Linked DNA regions of Homo sapiens: regions 1, 3 and 4 are each reported to be linked to region 2. Evidence: microRNA targets listed by miRTarBase, many of them from high-throughput screens and not tested one by one. Region 2 holds a microRNA gene; each other region holds the end of a gene's coding sequence.
What was found. The annotated mature microRNA hsa-miR-3179 reads AGAAGGGGUGAAAUUUAAACGU and lies in region 2 at 2,255-2,276, shown strand. An mRNA with a match to its seed (bases 2 to 7 or 8) in the 3' UTR can be bound and repressed. Matches are read on the target gene's strand: a 7mer-m8 pairs with bases 2 to 8, a 7mer-A1 pairs with bases 2 to 7 and ends in A, and an 8mer does both.

Region 1 (4,000 bases), not on the chromosome of region 2:
TTTTATAAAAGTGTAAGTAGATTAGGCTTGACAATAAAGCTAATGTCTGCAACCCTTGAATCTCTTCTAAAGTAATCTTCCTTTTGGTTGTTTCAGCTGTCATTGCTGGTGGAGTTATTGGCTTTCTCTTTGCAATTTTTCTTATCCTGCTGTTGGTGTATCGCATGAGAAAGAAGGATGAAGGAAGCTATGACCTTGGAGAACGCAAACCATCCAGTGCTGCTTATCAGAAGGCACCTACTAAGGAGTTTTATGCGTAAAACTCCAACTTAGTGTCTCTATTTATGAGATCACTGAACTTTTCAAAATAAAGCTTTTGCATAGAATAATGAAGATCTTTGTTTTTTGTTTTCATTAAAGAGCCATTCTGGCACTTTAATGATAAAATCCCATTGTATTTAAAACATTTCATGTATTTCTTTAGAACAACATAAAATTAAAATTTAACATCTGCAGTGTTCTGTGAATAGCAGTGGCAAAATATTATGTTATGAAAACCCTCGATGTTCATGGAATTGGTTTAAACTTTTATGCGCAAATACAAAATGATTGTCTTTTTCCTATGACTCAAAGATGAAAGCTGTTTCATTTGTGTCAGCATGTCTCAGATTGACCTTACCAAGTTGGTCTTACTTTGTTAATTTATCTGTTGTCCCCTTCCTCTCCTCTGCCCTCCCTTCTTGTGCCCTTAAAACCAAACCCTATGCCTTTTGTAGCTGTCATGGTGCAATTTGTCTTTGGAAAATTCAGATAATGGTAATTTAGTGTATATGTGATTTTCAAATATGTAAACTTTAACTTCCACTTTGTATAAATTTTTAAGTGTCAGACTATCCATTTTACACTTGCTTTATTTTTCATTACCTGTAGCTTTGGGCAGATTTGCAACAGCAAATTAATGTGTAAAATTGGATTATTACTACAAAACCGTTTAGTCATATCTATCTAATCAGATCTTCTTTTGGGAGGATTTGATGTAAGTTACTGACAAGCCTCAGCAAACCCAAAGATGTTAACAGTATTTTAAGAAGTTGCTGCAGATTCCTTTGGCCACTGTATTTGTTAATTTCTTGCAATTTGAAGGTACGAGTAGAGGTTTAAAGAAAAATCAGTTTTTGTTCTTAAAAATGCATTTAAGTTGTAAACGTCTTTTTAAGCCTTTGAAGTGCCTCTGATTCTATGTAACTTGTTGCAGACTGGTGTTAATGAGTATATGTAACAGTTTAAAAAAAAAGTTGGTATTTTATAAGCACAGACAATTCTAATGGTAACTTTTGTAGTCTTATGAATAGACATAAATTGTAATTTGGGAACATAAAAACTACTGAATAAATCATGTGGCCTAATATTGAAAATGTCACTGTTATAAATTTTGTACATTTTTGATCAAATGTACATCTCCCCTTTGCTAACGGCCGTCTGCTCTCAAGGATGACGTGGGTTTGATTTCTAAGTGTTTCACAGTGTCTGTAAATCAAGACCAAAGAGCCTGTCGATGAGACTGTTTATTACCAGATTCACTTCTGAATTGGCCAGAGGAAATCTGAATGTATTATCCTGTGTGTGTCTAGGTAGAGATATTGGAAGGCTGCCAGGGGATTTCGAAGTTTGCAACCTTTATAGGATAACTGATGGCAATATTAAGACAGACGCCTGCTTTTGCAAATAACTTACAAGACTGTAAATTCCAAAGATCTGAATGGGGCTTTCCTGATGTTGGTATCTAAGGCTTAGGCCTATAGATTGATTTACCTTTGGAATTGTGCTCCAAATGTCTACTGAAGCTTAACCGAAGAACTAATAAATGGACTACAGTAGCTCACGTTACAGGGAAGGAGGGTAGGCAGGGAGGCTCTGTGTGTTAAAATGAGGGTCTCACTGCTTTAGGATTGAAGTGGCTGGAAAGAGTGATGCCTGGGGAAGGAGATGGAGTTATGAGGGTACTGTGGCTGGTACTTTCTGTACTAAACATTTCCTTTTTCTATTTTACCACTAATTTTGTTTTAAACTGTGAGCCGTCCAAGTCAGAAGAAGACAGCAAAAAAAGCAACTTTTCCAACATACAATTTACTTTTAATAAAGTATGAATATTTCATTTTGAGAACATTCCCTGGAATTGCCACATAATTCATTAAAAACATTTTTTTAAGCAACACTTGGAACAGTGTTTACTTTAAATCCTTAATGGCCTTAATTAATTCTCAGATTCCTGCCCCATCACTTACAGAACCAATTCACTTTAGAGTGACTAAAAGGAAACGATAGCCTAGCTTTCTAAAGCCACGCTGTGTCCCTCAATTACAGAGGGTAGGAATGGGTATACCTCTAACTGTGCAAAGCAGAGTGAAATTCAATTCATAGAATAACAACTGCTGGGAATATCCGTGCCAGGAAAAGAAAAATTTCTGGCAAATATTTTGTCACTGCTGTAAAGCAAAATATTTGTGAAAGTGCCAAAATAAAGTCTGTCATGCCAAAAGTAAATCATTGTATAGACTGACATCCAGTTTTCTTCAACTGTACACTTTCTGCTTAGTTTTTTTTTTTTAAGATGCAGTAAATAATACTATAAAAAGTGTTAGTAATGATTACTGAGTTCAGGAAAATTTTGGTAAAATGTAAATATTAAAGCCAATGTGAAAATTTCCTGTTTCCTTAACCACATGTAAACGATTTCTCTTGAGTGAATATGGCTTTGTGTTTGAGAGACTTGAGATAGTCACACTGTCCCATTTTCAGCCCGTAGGGGGAATAGGAAGCACTTGGGTTTTATTTTTGTTTTTCAGTTTTAGTTGCAGGTGCGTAGTACCTGAATTTCAGGATTAGGACCTGTTTAATAAAAGTGAACAAGATTATAAAAATTGCCATTTCTTAAGGGTTGATAGTTTCTCATCAAACGTTTACTGAATTTTTGTCCATGCACTTTTTTGCAAGTTAGACAAAATGTACTTGTTATGGATGTAGTCTGTTAGGTCTAGGAGAGTAAGCTAATTAAATAGAATATGATTACTTTCTTCAAGTGTCCCTAAAGAAACTACTGTGTCCTACTTCATAGTTCTAAGGAGCTTATTTCTTCAATATCTTAGACATTTTGAAACATCAAGGAAAGATGTTAGGTGAGCAAAAATATAAAACCTAGAAATATTGTGGGGTTAATTTTATAAGTGTGATCTTTATAGCATTACTATAATTTCATAAGGGGGTGGTAGAGAAAAAAATATTTTTAAACATACTTGGTAGTACCAAAAAAGGCAACAACTTTGAGCTACACTATCTCTAATGTGAACTTCTAAATTCTAAGCCCACACCAGACATCGGTGAGACCCTAAGAGGTTTCCAATTAAAATTAAGCCAGATGATAAATGGAGTAATCTGAAGTGAGTGATCACTAAGGTTTTTTTTGGTTCTAATATTTTATGACAATTGTGAAATTTGAGACTTGGCCATTTCTGGGGAATTACATTAAGTCAGCACAAAAAACTTTAAAAGGGTAAAACCACATCTTTCAGTGATAAAAACAGTTACCAAAATCACTTCTGTCCCACTCTGTCTCCAAACTCTGGGTGACTTCACTCTTACAGTTTATGGTTGTAAAGTTTCATTTATTTTTGTTTATCTGCTGTATATGGTCTTTAGCAGGGCCTTTTCTGACCATGGAATCGTGGCAACTCTGAGAGCAACTTGGTTTCCTGCGAATTAGCTGGAAGGGTGTAACCCAAGCCGTCAATCCAACCCGCAAATAGCAGAGTGAAATGTTAGGCTTTGGTGCTTCAGAGATGCTGAGTGCAAGATGCATTTATTCCAGTTTTGTTGGCAAAATAGCATTCAAAAAACAAATGCTTGTATGTGCAATCCATCAGAAGTTCAGTCAAATATTTGCCTGACTATGCACTGGAAACTTAAAGAAGCAGAAGGTATGGCGGTGAACTACACAGACAAGGACCCTGCTCACGTGGAGCTTTCATGAACTTGGTGTGGGTTGCAGAGTGGAAATAAAATC
Region 2 (4,396 bases):
GGCTCTGTGCGACCAGTGGGAAGTGGTGGAAGTGAGTGATGATGTGTGACTTCTCGGGCTAGGTCGTAACAGGCATTGCACTTTGGCTCTCGGGAAGCCAACTGCCTTGCGTGAGGGTGCTCAGGCAGCCTCGTGGGGAGGGGTGAGGCCCCTGGCCCCCAGCATGTACAGCTTGCCACCACGTGAGTGAGCCAGCTTGGAAGTGAATTTCCCCGCCCCGGTCAAGCCTTCTGGTGAGTGCAACTGCAGATGACATCTGACTTCCACCACTCAAGAGACCCCAGGTCAGTGCTGCCCAGCTGAGCTCTTCCCAGGTTCTTTATGTCCCCCGAAAATGAGCTGTTTTAAGTTTAGAAAACTTAAAAACACAGTGACAATGAAGCACAGATATGCATTACATACAGTCCCAAATCAGTAATGACTTCAAGCTGTGTCCTCTCTTTCCAAGAAAGACAAAGCAGAGAACAAAGTTCAACCTACAGTGTCTTCCCAAATTCTTGACCCACGGGATCTGTGAATATCTTATACGACTGAATTAAGCCTCTAAGTTTTGGGGTAACTCATGCAACATTAGGTAACTGGAATAGTGCTCAATAAATGTCTGTCACATGAATGGGCAGTGACCATGGATGCATTTCTAGTTGTGTATTAGTTAAGGCTCTCTTGGTTTCAAGTAACAGAAATCCAACTCCAACTAGCTTGAGCAAAATGGGGCATTCCTCTGGTCAAGTAACGGAGAAATCCAAGAGTCTCTGGCTTCATGCATAGCGGGACCCAGTCTCAATTTCCACCTCCTGGCTCTGCTTCCCTTGATGCCAACTTTCAGGAATCAGCTTTCTGAAAGACCACTCTGCTAGAAACAGACAGGCCCATCCTTTCAACCAGGTCCAGGACTGTTTGCTCAGTCACTGCTCTCAGAGGCAGGGGCAGAGGCAGATGCCGGGCACACATCCACAGAAGTGGAGATGGCAGGAAACTGAGAGTGGAGTGCTGGAAAGCTGGCTTTTGCCTATGGGTTCCGCTTCTGACATCATCCGGCAATGTCAGGCTTTACATTGCCCCCATCTGCAGACCCAGCAGAAGGACAGCTTCCATCCCACCACATCAATATGCCAGTCCTGGGGCGGGGGAAGGACTTATGGGCAACCTTTGCAGAATCACTGGGGCCTGGCCGCACATGAGCCATGCCCACGCTCATGTGACAGGCGGCCCCTGTGCCTGGGGTGCTGTATTACCCAGAGGAATAAGTGATCCTGGGTGGGCAAAAGCAACAGAAGAGAAGTCAGCTCCACTTCCTTCCAAAACTTGAGAAGGCCTGGTCAAAATCACCCTCCAGGCCCGGTGTGGTGGCTCATGCCTGTAATCCCAGCACTTTGGGAGGTTGAGATGGGCAGATCATGAGGTCAAGAGATCGAGACCATCCTGGCCAATATGGTGAAACCCTGTCTCTACTAAAACTACAAAAATTAGCTAGGTGTGGTGGTGGGCGCCTGTAGTCCCAGCCACTCGATAGGCTGACAGGAGAATCACTTGATCCAGGGAGTCGGAGGTTGCAGTGAGCCGAGATCGCACCATTGCACTCTAGCCTGGCGACAGAGTGAGACTAAAAAAAAAAAAAAAGAAAAAAGAAAAAAATCAGCCTCCATTTTTGGCTTTCTCTTTCATTAGAAAAATGAACCTGACTTTATGACCATGACAATGAAATGCCTAGAGAAGGGAGCACTCATTTTCCAGTGGGCCTACTGTGTGCTGGGGTGGCGAGACTCTTCCTGCCCTGGAACTTGGTGAGGTCAGGAGGGAAGATATTATATGACTGCCTTCCTCTGTACTTTTTCAGTGGGGGCAGGTGTTTATGCTTGATGATGTAATGGTGAGATCTTGGTTGGAATATGAACTTTTCTTTCTTTTTTTTTTTTTAGATGGGTTCTTGTTCTGTTCCCCAGGCTGGAGTACAATGGCACCATCACAGCTCACTGCAGCCTTGATCTCCCAGGGTCAAGGGATCATCGTGCCTCAGCCTGCTGAGTAGCTGGGACTACAGGAGTGCACCACCACACCTGGCTAATTTTTTTAAAAAAAATCTTTGTAGAGATGAGCTCTCACTAGGTTGCCCAGGCTGGTCTTGAACTCCTGAGCTCAAGCAATCCTCCCACCTTGGGCTCCCTAAGTGTTGGGATTACAGGCAAGAGTCACCACGCCCAGCCAGGATCACAGACGTTTAAATTACACTCCTTCTGCTGTGCCTTACAGCAGTAGAAGGGGTGAAATTTAAACGTCTGTGATCCTGGGGTTGTTGAAGATGCCACCCATCTACATATTCTTTCAGATGCACAATATTTCACTGTGTGAATGAAACAGCAGCCCTTCTTACGTGTGCTTTTTGGAATTTGAAGATTTTGTAAGATAAGATGAATGCATTGGAACAAGTGATCCTCAATTCTGTGCAGTCTGTGCCTCCGGAGACTGGCGGCTGCCCCTCCCTGTCTAGTCTTGCAAGAGAGGCAGCTGGCAAGAGGACAGAAGCCGGCAGCTGCTGCGTTTTCATCCTGTTTCTGCTCTTGGAGCTGAGGGGGAGAGGTGGCTAGCAGCCACCCAGTGATCAAACTTGCAGCCTGCCTCTCTTGCTTCCTTTTCACAGACTGGAGTGTGCCTGGGTATGGAGAAAGAACATTTTGCTTCTTGCCTCTCAGAGTTTCAAGAACGCCTCACCTGAGTGGCATGCATTCATGGAATGAGTAATTATTACAGTGGAGAACTCCTCACTGTGAATTAATTACACAGATGATATTCAAGACTTAGACTGGGCTAGTGCAGGGGTTAGCAAACTATGGCCCACTGTTCTTGTTTTATAAATAAAGTGTTATGAGCACACAGCCATGCCCATTCATTTGCAGATTATGGCTGCTTTTGCCTGACAGTGCCAGATGTAAGTAGTTGTGGCAAAGACCAGGTAGCCTAAAAAGCCTAAAATACTTGCTATCTGGGTCTTTACAGAAGACATTTTGTTGTTGTTGTTGTTGTTTTTGAGATGGGGTCTTTCTCTGTCACCCAGGCTGGAGTGCAGTGGTGTGATCTCAGCTCACTGCAACCTCCGCCTCTTGGGTTCAAATGATTATCGTGCCTCAGCCTCCCTAGTAGCTGGGATTATAGGCGCCTGCCACCAAGCCTGGCTAATTTTTGCATTTTTAGTAGAAACAGGGCTTTACCATGTTGGCCAGGCTGGTCTCAAACCCCGACCTCAGATGATCTGCCTGCCTCAGCCTCCCAAAGTGCTGGGATTACAGGTGTGAGCCACTGCGCCTGGCCTAGAAAATGTTTTCTAACCTGTTGTCTAGTGGGTGCTTTGTAAAGTTTAGTTTTAGGGGGAGCATCATTAATTCATTCAACAAGTATTAACTGAGCATCTCCCCTGTGCTGGGTGCTGCTTGGCATACTGGGGGTTTAGTGGTGTGAGAGAGACCGAGCCTCAGCTCTTAGGAGCACAGTGCTGATGGAGGACGAAAGGTAAACACACACATTAGAAGTTGTTGGATAATGCCAGGCGTTACGAAGAAAAGAAGCAGAACAAGGCAATGTGACAGAGGATGATTGGTATCATGGAAGGTCTCTCTGAGGAGGCAGCATCTGAGCTGAGACCTGAGGAGGGGAAGGGCCAGTTATGCAAAGATCTGGGGGAAGAGCTGCCCAGGCAGAGGGGACCATAATTGCAAAGGCCCCCAGGAGGAAATGAGCTCCCTGAGTTTCAGGAATAGCAAAGAGGCCAGGGTGGCCAGAGTCAAGTGATTGAGAGGAAGAGATGAGAACGATGGCAGGGACCGGGTCATGTGGGTGCCCTGGAAAGGAGTTTAGATTTTATTCTAATGGCAACAGAAGGCATTGGAGGGTTTAAGTAGGGAAAGGGGAGTGATCTGATGTATGTTTTTAAACAATTGCTTCTTTAAATTTTGAGGAGATTGGATTATTGGGAAGCAAGAATGAATTTAGGGAGAGAAGCAAAGAGGACGTTGTGTTGGTTTAGGCAAAAGACAGCAATGGCTTGGATTGGGGTGATGGAAGTAACAGTGGCAGGAAGTGGTGAGCTTGGGGCTATGCTTCAGAGATAGAGCAGAAAGGTCTTGCTGATGTATTTAATACAGGAGGTGAGGGAAGGGAGGAATCAACGATAAGTGAATCGTTTGTTTCTAGCTGAACCACTGAAATGTGTAGGTAAATTGAGACTTCTGTTTTGGCCATCGTGAGTTTGAGATGCTTATCAGACACCCGAGTCTGCAGCCTGGGTGAGAAATCACGGCTGGAGATGAGACGTGGTGAGCTGGGAGTGTTTTTGGATGACAGATGAGGCCACGGGATTGAATAATAGGTATCCTTATGAAGACTGAGAAAAGGAGAGGGCTGG
Region 3 (4,000 bases), not on the chromosome of region 2:
AATGCGAGAAAATTTTTGCAACCTACTCATCTGACAAAGGGCTAATATCCAGAATCTACAATGAACTCAAACAAATTTACAAGAAAAAAACAAACAACCCCATCAAAAAGTGGGTGAACGACATGAACAGACACTTCTCAAAAGAAGACATTTATGCAGCCAAAAATCACATGAAAAAATGCTCATCATCACTGGCCATCAGAGAAATGCAAATCAAAACCACAATGAGATACCATCTCACACCAGTTAGAATGGCGATCATTAAAAAGTCAGGAAACAACAGGTGCTGGAGAGGATGTGGAGAAATAGGAACACTTTTACACTGTTGGTGGGACTGTAAACTAGTTCAACCATTGTGGAAGTCAGTGTGGTGATTCCTCAGGGATCTAGAACTAGAAATACCATTTGACCCAGCCATCCCATTACTGGGTATATACCCAAAGGATTATAAATCATGCTGCTATAAAGACACATGCACACATATGTTTATAGCAGCACTATTCACAATAGCAAAGACTTGGAACCAACCTAAATGTCCAACAACGATAGACTGGATTAAGAAAATGTGGCACATATACACCATGGAATACTATGCAGCCATAAAAAATGATGAGTTCATGTCCTTTGTAGGGACATGGATGAAACTGGAAACCATCATTCTCAGCAAACTATCGCAAGGACAAAAAACCAAACGCTGCATGTTCTCACTCATAGGTGGGAATTGAACAGTGAGAACACATGGACACAGGAAGGGGAACATCACACTCCGGAGACTGTTGTGGGGTTGGGGGAGCGGGGGAGGGATAGCATTAGCAGATATACCTAATGCTAAATGACGAGTTAATGGGTACAGCACACCAACATGGCACATGTATACATATGTAACAAACCTGCACATTGTGCACATGTACCCTAAAACTTAAAGTATAATAATAATAAAATTAAAAAAAAAAATAACAGTACCCTTGTACACTGTTGGTGGAATGTAGATCACTACAGCCATTACGGAAAACAGCATGGAGGTTTCCAAAAAAAACTAAAAATAGAATGACCATACAATTCAGCAATCCCACTTCCAGGTGTATATACATATATTCAAAGGAAATAAAATCACCATCTTGAAGGGATATCTACACTCCCGTGTTCACTGCAGCATTATTCACAATAGCCAAGAAATGGGAACAACCTAAGTGTCTGCTGACATGAACTGGTAAAGAAAATGCATATGGTACACATACCATGGACCAATAACCCGCCTGAGAAGAGAAGGAAGTCCTGTCATTTGCAACAACATAGGTGAATGTGGAGGATGTTATGGTAAGTGAAAGAAGCCAGGCACAGAAAGACAAATACTGCCTGATCTCATATTGTCAGAGGTGTGTGAACCAGGGCAACTCCATCTTAAATAGGAGCTGGGTAAAATAAGGCTAAAGCCTACTGGGTTGCATTCCCAGACGGTGAGGCATTCTAACTCACAGGATGAGATAGGAGGTCAGCACAAAATACAGGTCATAAAGACCTTGCTGATAAAACAGGCTAATAAAAAAGAGCCAGCCAAAACCCACCAAAACCAAGATGGCGACGACAATGACCTCTCGTCACCCTCACTGCTACACTCCCACCAGCGCCATGACAGTTTATAGATGCCATGGCAAGGTCAGAAAGTTATCCTATATGGTCTAAAAGGGGAGGCAAGAATAATCCACCCCTTATTTAGCATATCATCAAGAAATAACCACAAAATGGGCAACCAGCAGCCCTCAGGGCTGCTCTATGGAGTCGTCGTTCTTTTATTCCTTTACTTTCTCAATAAACTTGCTTTCACTTTGCACTGTGGACTGGCCGTGAATTCTTTCTTGCTTGAGATCCAACAAACCTCTCTTGAGGTCTGGATCAGGACCCCTTTCCTGTAACAATATGTGGTATCTAAAGATGTCAAACCCATCCAGAGTAGAAGGGTGGATACCAGAGTCAGGGCGTGGGGGCAGTGAGGTGACAGGTGTTGGTCAAAGGGTACAAACTTTCTGTGGTAAGTACTGAGGCAGGAGAACAGGGTCTGGAGACAGGGACAACAGCAAGGTCTGAGAAAACAGCAAGGTCTGGGCGCAGGAAATCCAAGGCCAATTCGAGCTGCCTTCCCAAAGCTGGGTCAAAAGGAAAACACCTGGGTCTGGGGGCAGGGAACCTGAGGCCAATTAACACACACTTCTGAAAGCGGAACCAAACAGAAAACCCCATCTCCCCAAGCCAAGCAGCAAAAGATCAAAGGCTACTCTCCCTATAACGTCTTAGATGGAAAGGGAGAGTGCCCTGGATTAGCTGCAGCCAACACAGGGACCATCCCTTCATCTGCGTAGAGCGCCAATTCACCTCAGCCTTTAATTAGCCAGGGACCAAATCCTTCATCCAGATAAGGGGTAGCAGATAAGAACCTCAAACAGGGAACTTAACACCCTTGAGCCCTTGCTGGGTCTGCTCCCACCCTGCAGAGCTTTCTGTCTTGAATAAATCTCTGCTTTCGCTGCTTCGCTCCCGCGTTTCATTCCTCTGCTACTCTGTGTGTTTTGGTCAATTCTTTGTTCAAAATGCCAAGGACCTGAACAACTCATAGTGAAGACCCTCCATGAGTAACAGTAGGTTCTAGAGGCCTAATGGACAACACAGATACTACAGTTACTAATAACATATATTTGCAGTTTGCTCAGAGAGTAGATTGTGAGTATTCTCACCACACACACGAAAACAGTAAATGTGAGCTGGTGGGTATGTCAACAAGCTTGACTGTGGCAAACATTTCACAATGAATACCTATAGCAAATCATCACGTTGTACATCTTGAATATTTGAAAAATACATGGAATGAGGAGCTCCCTGTGCTCTCAGATATAATTATGCTCAGAGGAAACTGCTGAAGAGTCACAGGTAACTTACCACAGACGGAGAATCCCTTACTCCCTGGAGAGACCGGGGACAGCGATGGGACTGAGCAGGAGCTGGGTCACAAAATACCTATCCAGGCTCACAGGCTGGAAAGCAGCAGCAGTCCCCCATCCTGTGTGTGTGGTGGTGAGGGTGGGAGTGACGCTGTCAGGTCCTGAGCTGAGCGGTGGCCCACCAAGCCCCCTAGGCCTTCCCTGGGAGGGTCCTGCGCCTCAGGCCTCAGGGCACAGGGCGTGGCGGAGAGAATGGAAGGGGAAATAGACCAGGAGCTGAAAACTGTGTCAAATGAACCATGAGCTCTGGATAAGAAATCCATACTCAGAAAATTCCTACATATAAAAATACCTTTTAAATATCAAAAAATCTCATCTTGCCCTAATTTTTTGGTATAAATTTCATTTCAAAAACTTCCCACCAGTTGTGTGTGGACTAAGGAGAACACCATCTTTGGTGCAGTTTGGATGGAGTAAGTGGAAAATGGTAGGAAAGTGGCAGAAGGGCAAAGGCCCGGGCGAAGGCGCTGAAGAAATCTCAGGGGGAAAAGCCCCTGTGGCCAGGTTGGCCCTCACCTCGGAAGGACAGGATGTCTCCGGAAAGTGGGGTCCAGGTCCCACATTTACCACTTGTCTGAGTTTCTTCATGCAAGGCTTCCCCGCCCGAGGGGCCCTGTCAGAGCTGCAGTGCTGAGCCTGAGGCCACCGCCATTTCTCCCTCCTCCTCTTCACACCCTTCTTCTTGGGCCATGCCTCCTCCGCCCTTGGGTGCCTGTCTGACAGGGAGGGCTGTGGCGGTGGCTCATTCTGGAACCAGTATGTGCTGCTCGTGGGTGCTGCAAAGCCCTGCATGCCAGCCCCGCCCCAGGCCTCTGCTCACCAGACCCTTTCTTTCACCCACTTTGTTCTTCTGGCTGAGCTTTGAGGAAAGGAACTGCCTTTCAAACGCAGCCTGACTTAGGTCGGCCGTCTTTTTCTCTTTTCTTTTCTGTTTCTTGTCTGCATAGATGAGCTTTTCAGGACTGTGAAGAAAAGCAGAAAAAATTGTCTCGATTCAGCACAGATGG
Region 4 (4,000 bases), not on the chromosome of region 2:
TTCCCTCCCGGGGATGGGGGCCCTGAGCCGCCCCGAGGCCGGAACCTAGCCGATGCGGCGGCCTTTGAGAAGATGATCATCTCAGAGCTGGTGCACAACAACCTGCGGGGGAGCAGCAGCGCGGCCAAGGGCCCTCCACCGCCTGAGCCCCCTGTGCCACCTGTGCCAGGGGGCGGGGGCGAGGAAGAGGCGGGCGGGCCCGGGGGTGCTGACCGGGCCGAGATTGAACTTCTCTATAAGGCCCTGGAGGAGCCTCTGCTGCTGCCCCGGGCCCAGTCGGTGCTGTACCAGAGCGATCTGGACGAGTCGGAGAGCTGCACGGCCGAGGACGGCGCCACCAGCCGGCCCCTCTCCTCCCCTCCTGGCCGGGACTCCCTCTATGCCAGCGGGGCCAACCTGCGGGACTCACCCTCCTACCCGGACAGCAGCCCTGAGGGGCCCAGTGAGGCCCTGCCCCCACCCCCTCCCGCACCCCCCGGCCCCCCCGAAATCTACTACACCTCGCGCCCGCCAGCCCTGGTGGCCCGGAATCCCCTGCAGGGCTACTACCAGGTGCGGCGTCCTAGCCACGAGGGCTACCTGGCAGCCCCAGGCCTTGAGGGGCCAGGGCCCGATGGGGACGGGCAGATGCAGCTGGTCACCAGTCTCTGAGGGCACCTCATGGACCAGGGGCTGGTGGCCCAGGCCAGGGAGGGAACCCTGGGCAGGGCTCTGGTGGGAGAGGGAGACAGATGGAGGCAGTGGCTGGTGGGCCACTCTCTCCAGGTGCCCCTCAGCCATGGGCCCTACAGTCCCCTCAGGGGACTCTAACCTGGGGGCCTGAGGTGCCAGGGTTCACAGACAGGGTTTCCCACCAGCCACACGCACCAGCTCTATTTGGGGGAAGTGTAGTGAGGAGGAGCCCAGAGGACCCCAGGGGAGTGAGGAGGGAGAACTTGGAAGGGTGCAGCCCACTTCCAGACTCTCCCCTCTCCCACCCTTCTACCCTGTGAAGGGAAATGAGGGCTTTAGTTTCCTGGGCAGGGAGGGGCAGCTTCTGAGGTTGCCAAAGGCCCCCACTGGATGGAACCTGTTAGCTGCTCCTCTCCGCAGCCAGAAATGCTGCCGGCTGCACCCAGAGGGAGCAGTGAGGCAGGACAGATGGACAGGTTCCTCCTGCGCTGTAATTCCCTGCTCCCTGGAGACTGGGAAAAGGCCGCAGGGCAGGGGGACTGGGCGGTGGTGGCTGGTGGTTTAAAGGTTGAACTTTCTCTGAAGCTCCTTTCCCCTTGCTCTTGGTCCCTGCCCCGCAAGCAAACCTGCCCCCTCTGCCTCCCAGTGCACCCAATGACCCCCTCCCTTGGGGCGACTCCTGATGAAGCACAACTCCCCGCAGGGCCCCCAGCCCACAGGGGTGGCCATATTTGGGCAGTTCCCAGTCCTGTGGGCTCGGCTATCTGGGGAGCAGATTTTGGGTCTGGATCTCCCTGGGGAGTGGGTCCTGGGCTTGGATCTTTCCCTAGGGGGCCCTCTTACTCCTTCCTCTCTCCTCCTCCTTCCCCATTGCTGTAAATATTTCAACGAAATGGAAAAGAAAAAAAAAAGACAAAAAAAAAAAAAAAGAAAAGAAAAAAAATCTCATCACTTGAAGCCACCGGGAGCCTGCGGCCCGGGCCAGCCCGGGCTTTCTCCGGAGCAGAGCAGCGCTGCTGGCCTGGCAGCCAGGACTTCTCCGTGTACGTGCATCCCCAGTCCCCGCCGGGGCGGGCGGGCCGCCAGAGCAGCTTTTTACAATCCAGAGACAGAAAACAAAATCTAGATGCAACAGCGAAACAAAGAACCCATTTCCTTCCTGGCACCCTCCTTTCCTGCTCCGCCTGCCCGGCATCATCAGCCCTTCTGGGGCGTGTACCTCTCACTGCCTGCCCCAGGACCAGAGGCCTGTCTCCCCCTTCCCTCCCCACCGGCCCGGGGGAGACCTCTTCACACCCAAAGATGCTTTGTCAAGATGGCTGCGCTGTCCCTTTGAGTTCCTGCTTCTTGTATATTGCTCTGGGGACTCTCGCCGGGGAAGATGGGGCTGATTTCCCACCTAGAGAGGTTGATGGCAGAAGGAAAATGGGGAGGCACTGGGGTTGTGGAGGGCATGGGTATGGCTGAGGAGGGTGCTGGGAACGGCAAGGCGGTCTGGGGGATGGGGAGGGGCAAAGGTGAGAGATCACCTTCCCTATCCTCCACCTTCCCGCAGGGAAGACGAAGCCAGGTGCCAGGGCTGGGGTCGGGACACCCATGTTCTGGGCGGCTTGACCCCAAATCCCAGACCCCGGAAGCTCCAGGCTCGGGATGTGTCCTGAGCACCTGTCCCGGCCCCCTCCTCTCCAGCCTGTCAGGCCAGCCTCCCCAGCCCCCTTCCCTCAACTCTAGGGGCAGCATAGCCCCAGGCCACCCTAGCCCAGCCCCTGCATTGCCGTTTCCCCAGAGGTGGCCCCTCCACCTCTGCTCTGACCTCTCCCCATCTCTCTGCCCCTCCTTTTCTCACAAGTGCCATGAGTTTTCAAACATCTTCGGGTCTCAGCCTGCTGCTGCCATGAACTTTGTTGGGTTAAGGGGGAGGGGCTCTAGGAAGGAACTGGGGGGAAGGGGACAGGTAGGTGGCTGGAGGGACCCTTTTTGCTGCTAGAAAGCCCCTCCCTTCTCCCGGGGAGCTGGGGCTGGCTTGTCCCCATCAATTAGGGGAGAAGGGGTCAGACCAAAGATGGTGGTTTGTCCCGTGTAAGGGAACAGGTGTGGGGAAGAGGTGGGGTTGGGTTCCAACTCTGGCTTTTTCTGGTAGAAAGGCCTAACCCATTACACCAGAAGACCATGGGTGAAGTCTAGATGGGGAGGAGAAGTGAGGCCAGGGACAGTCTTGCCAGACGACTCTGAGGAGGGCAAGGGACAGTTCCATGGCCCTTCCCGGACTGCACTAGGCTGGGAGCTCTGTTGTGTGGAGGGGTGGTCAGAGGTCTGTGAAGAGCGGGCAGGAGGCATGAGCAGGCGAGGAGCTGGCCTGTCCCGGGAAGCAGCCCAGCCTGTGGCTGCCCCCGACACCAGGAGGAGGGCCAGGAGAGTTCCAGGGGGCTGAGGCACACAGAGAGGCCAACTTCCTCCCTGCCCAGCCTTCCTTGTATCTCTCCAGACTCGGACAATCAAAGGGAGAGAGGGTGTATCGGGTCCTGTTCCAGCCGGCATCGCCGGGTGGCTTCCAGGCCTCAGAGCTGTGTGGCAGGGCCCCCTGCTGGGGCTGGACATCACTGCAGTCCAGTGCAAAGCCGCCCCCAGAGCCCAGGTGTCCCCCCAACCTAACCAGACCTGGTGCCTTGACGCCCCCACCCCAGCTGGGACGGTACAGAGAAGGGTCTTGGTTTCCTCTCCTACTCCCTTCCTTAGGCTCCTGAACTCGTTTGCTCCTAAATCTTGTTAATTCTTTTTCTCTGGATTTTGGTTTCTTTTGGCTTTCCCTTGCCTTCCCCTTTCTCTGTCTCCAACACTCTTTCCCCATGTCTTTCTGGCTGTCTCTATGTTCCTCTTCTCTTATCCTCAACTTTCTGTCCATTCGGGCCTCCTCCCCACCTCCCACGCCCCAGCCCCTCCCTCCTTGGTCTCCTTTTCGATATGCCAAACCAATTTTGGGTCGAGTGCATTTAACGAGAACAAAACAAAAGGCTCATAACAACAAGAACGTTTCAGAAAAAAACAAAAAGTTTTAAAAAAATTGTTGAGTCAAAAAGTCAAACAATAAAGAAATTAAGATTTCTTGGAATGACAAGAGTGGTGTGACTTCTTGAGTGGGGGAGTAAGAAATGGGTGAATAGCTGGGCGCGGTGGCTCAGGCCTGTAATCCCAGCATTTTGGGAGGCCGAGGTGGGTGGATCACTTGAGGCCAGGAGTTTGAGACTAGCCTAGTCAACATGGTGAAACCCCATCTCTACTAAAAAGACAAAATTAGCTGGGCGTGGTGGCAAGCACCTGTGGTCCCAGC

Region 1: the mRNA of SDC2 is a reported target of hsa-miR-3179. Seed matches in the 3' UTR shown: 7mer-m8 at 654-660.
Region 3: miRTarBase lists FAM228A as a target of hsa-miR-3179. Seed matches in the 3' UTR shown: 7mer-m8 at 3,189-3,195.
Region 4: the mRNA of ADGRL1 is a reported target of hsa-miR-3179. Seed matches in the 3' UTR shown: 7mer-m8 at 1,928-1,934 and 7mer-m8 at 2,385-2,391.

What each region holds. Positions count from the first base shown.
Region 1 is chr8:96,609,289-96,613,288 of GRCh38, forward strand. SDC2 (syndecan 2) reads left to right here. Exons shown (of 5, transcript NM_002998.4): 5 at 97-2,502. The coding sequence ends at 260. Among named protein-coding and RNA genes, the nearest start is that of CPQ, 34 kb to the right of the region's middle.
Region 2 is chr16:18,492,384-18,496,779 of GRCh38, reverse strand. It overlaps MIR3179-4 (microRNA 3179-4), which reads left to right and starts at 2,204; the gene lies at 2,204-2,287. All of the region lies in intron 2 of LOC105379460 (a long non-coding RNA gene), which reads right to left.
Region 3 is chr2:24,190,367-24,194,366 of GRCh38, reverse strand. It overlaps FAM228A (family with sequence similarity 228 member A), which reads right to left. Exons shown (of 6, transcript NM_001040710.3): 6 at 2,669-3,955. The coding sequence ends at 3,736. Among named protein-coding and RNA genes, the nearest start is that of FAM228A, 17 kb to the right of the region's middle.
Region 4 is chr19:14,147,524-14,151,523 of GRCh38, reverse strand. ADGRL1 (adhesion G protein-coupled receptor L1) reads left to right here. Exons shown (of 23, transcript NM_014921.5): 23 at 1-3,781. The coding sequence ends at 651. The region is part of intron 1 of ADGRL1-AS1 (ADGRL1 antisense RNA 1); the gene reads right to left. Among named protein-coding and RNA genes, the nearest start is that of ADGRL1-AS1, 12 kb to the right of the region's middle. RefSeq lists an enhancer at 2,903-3,646.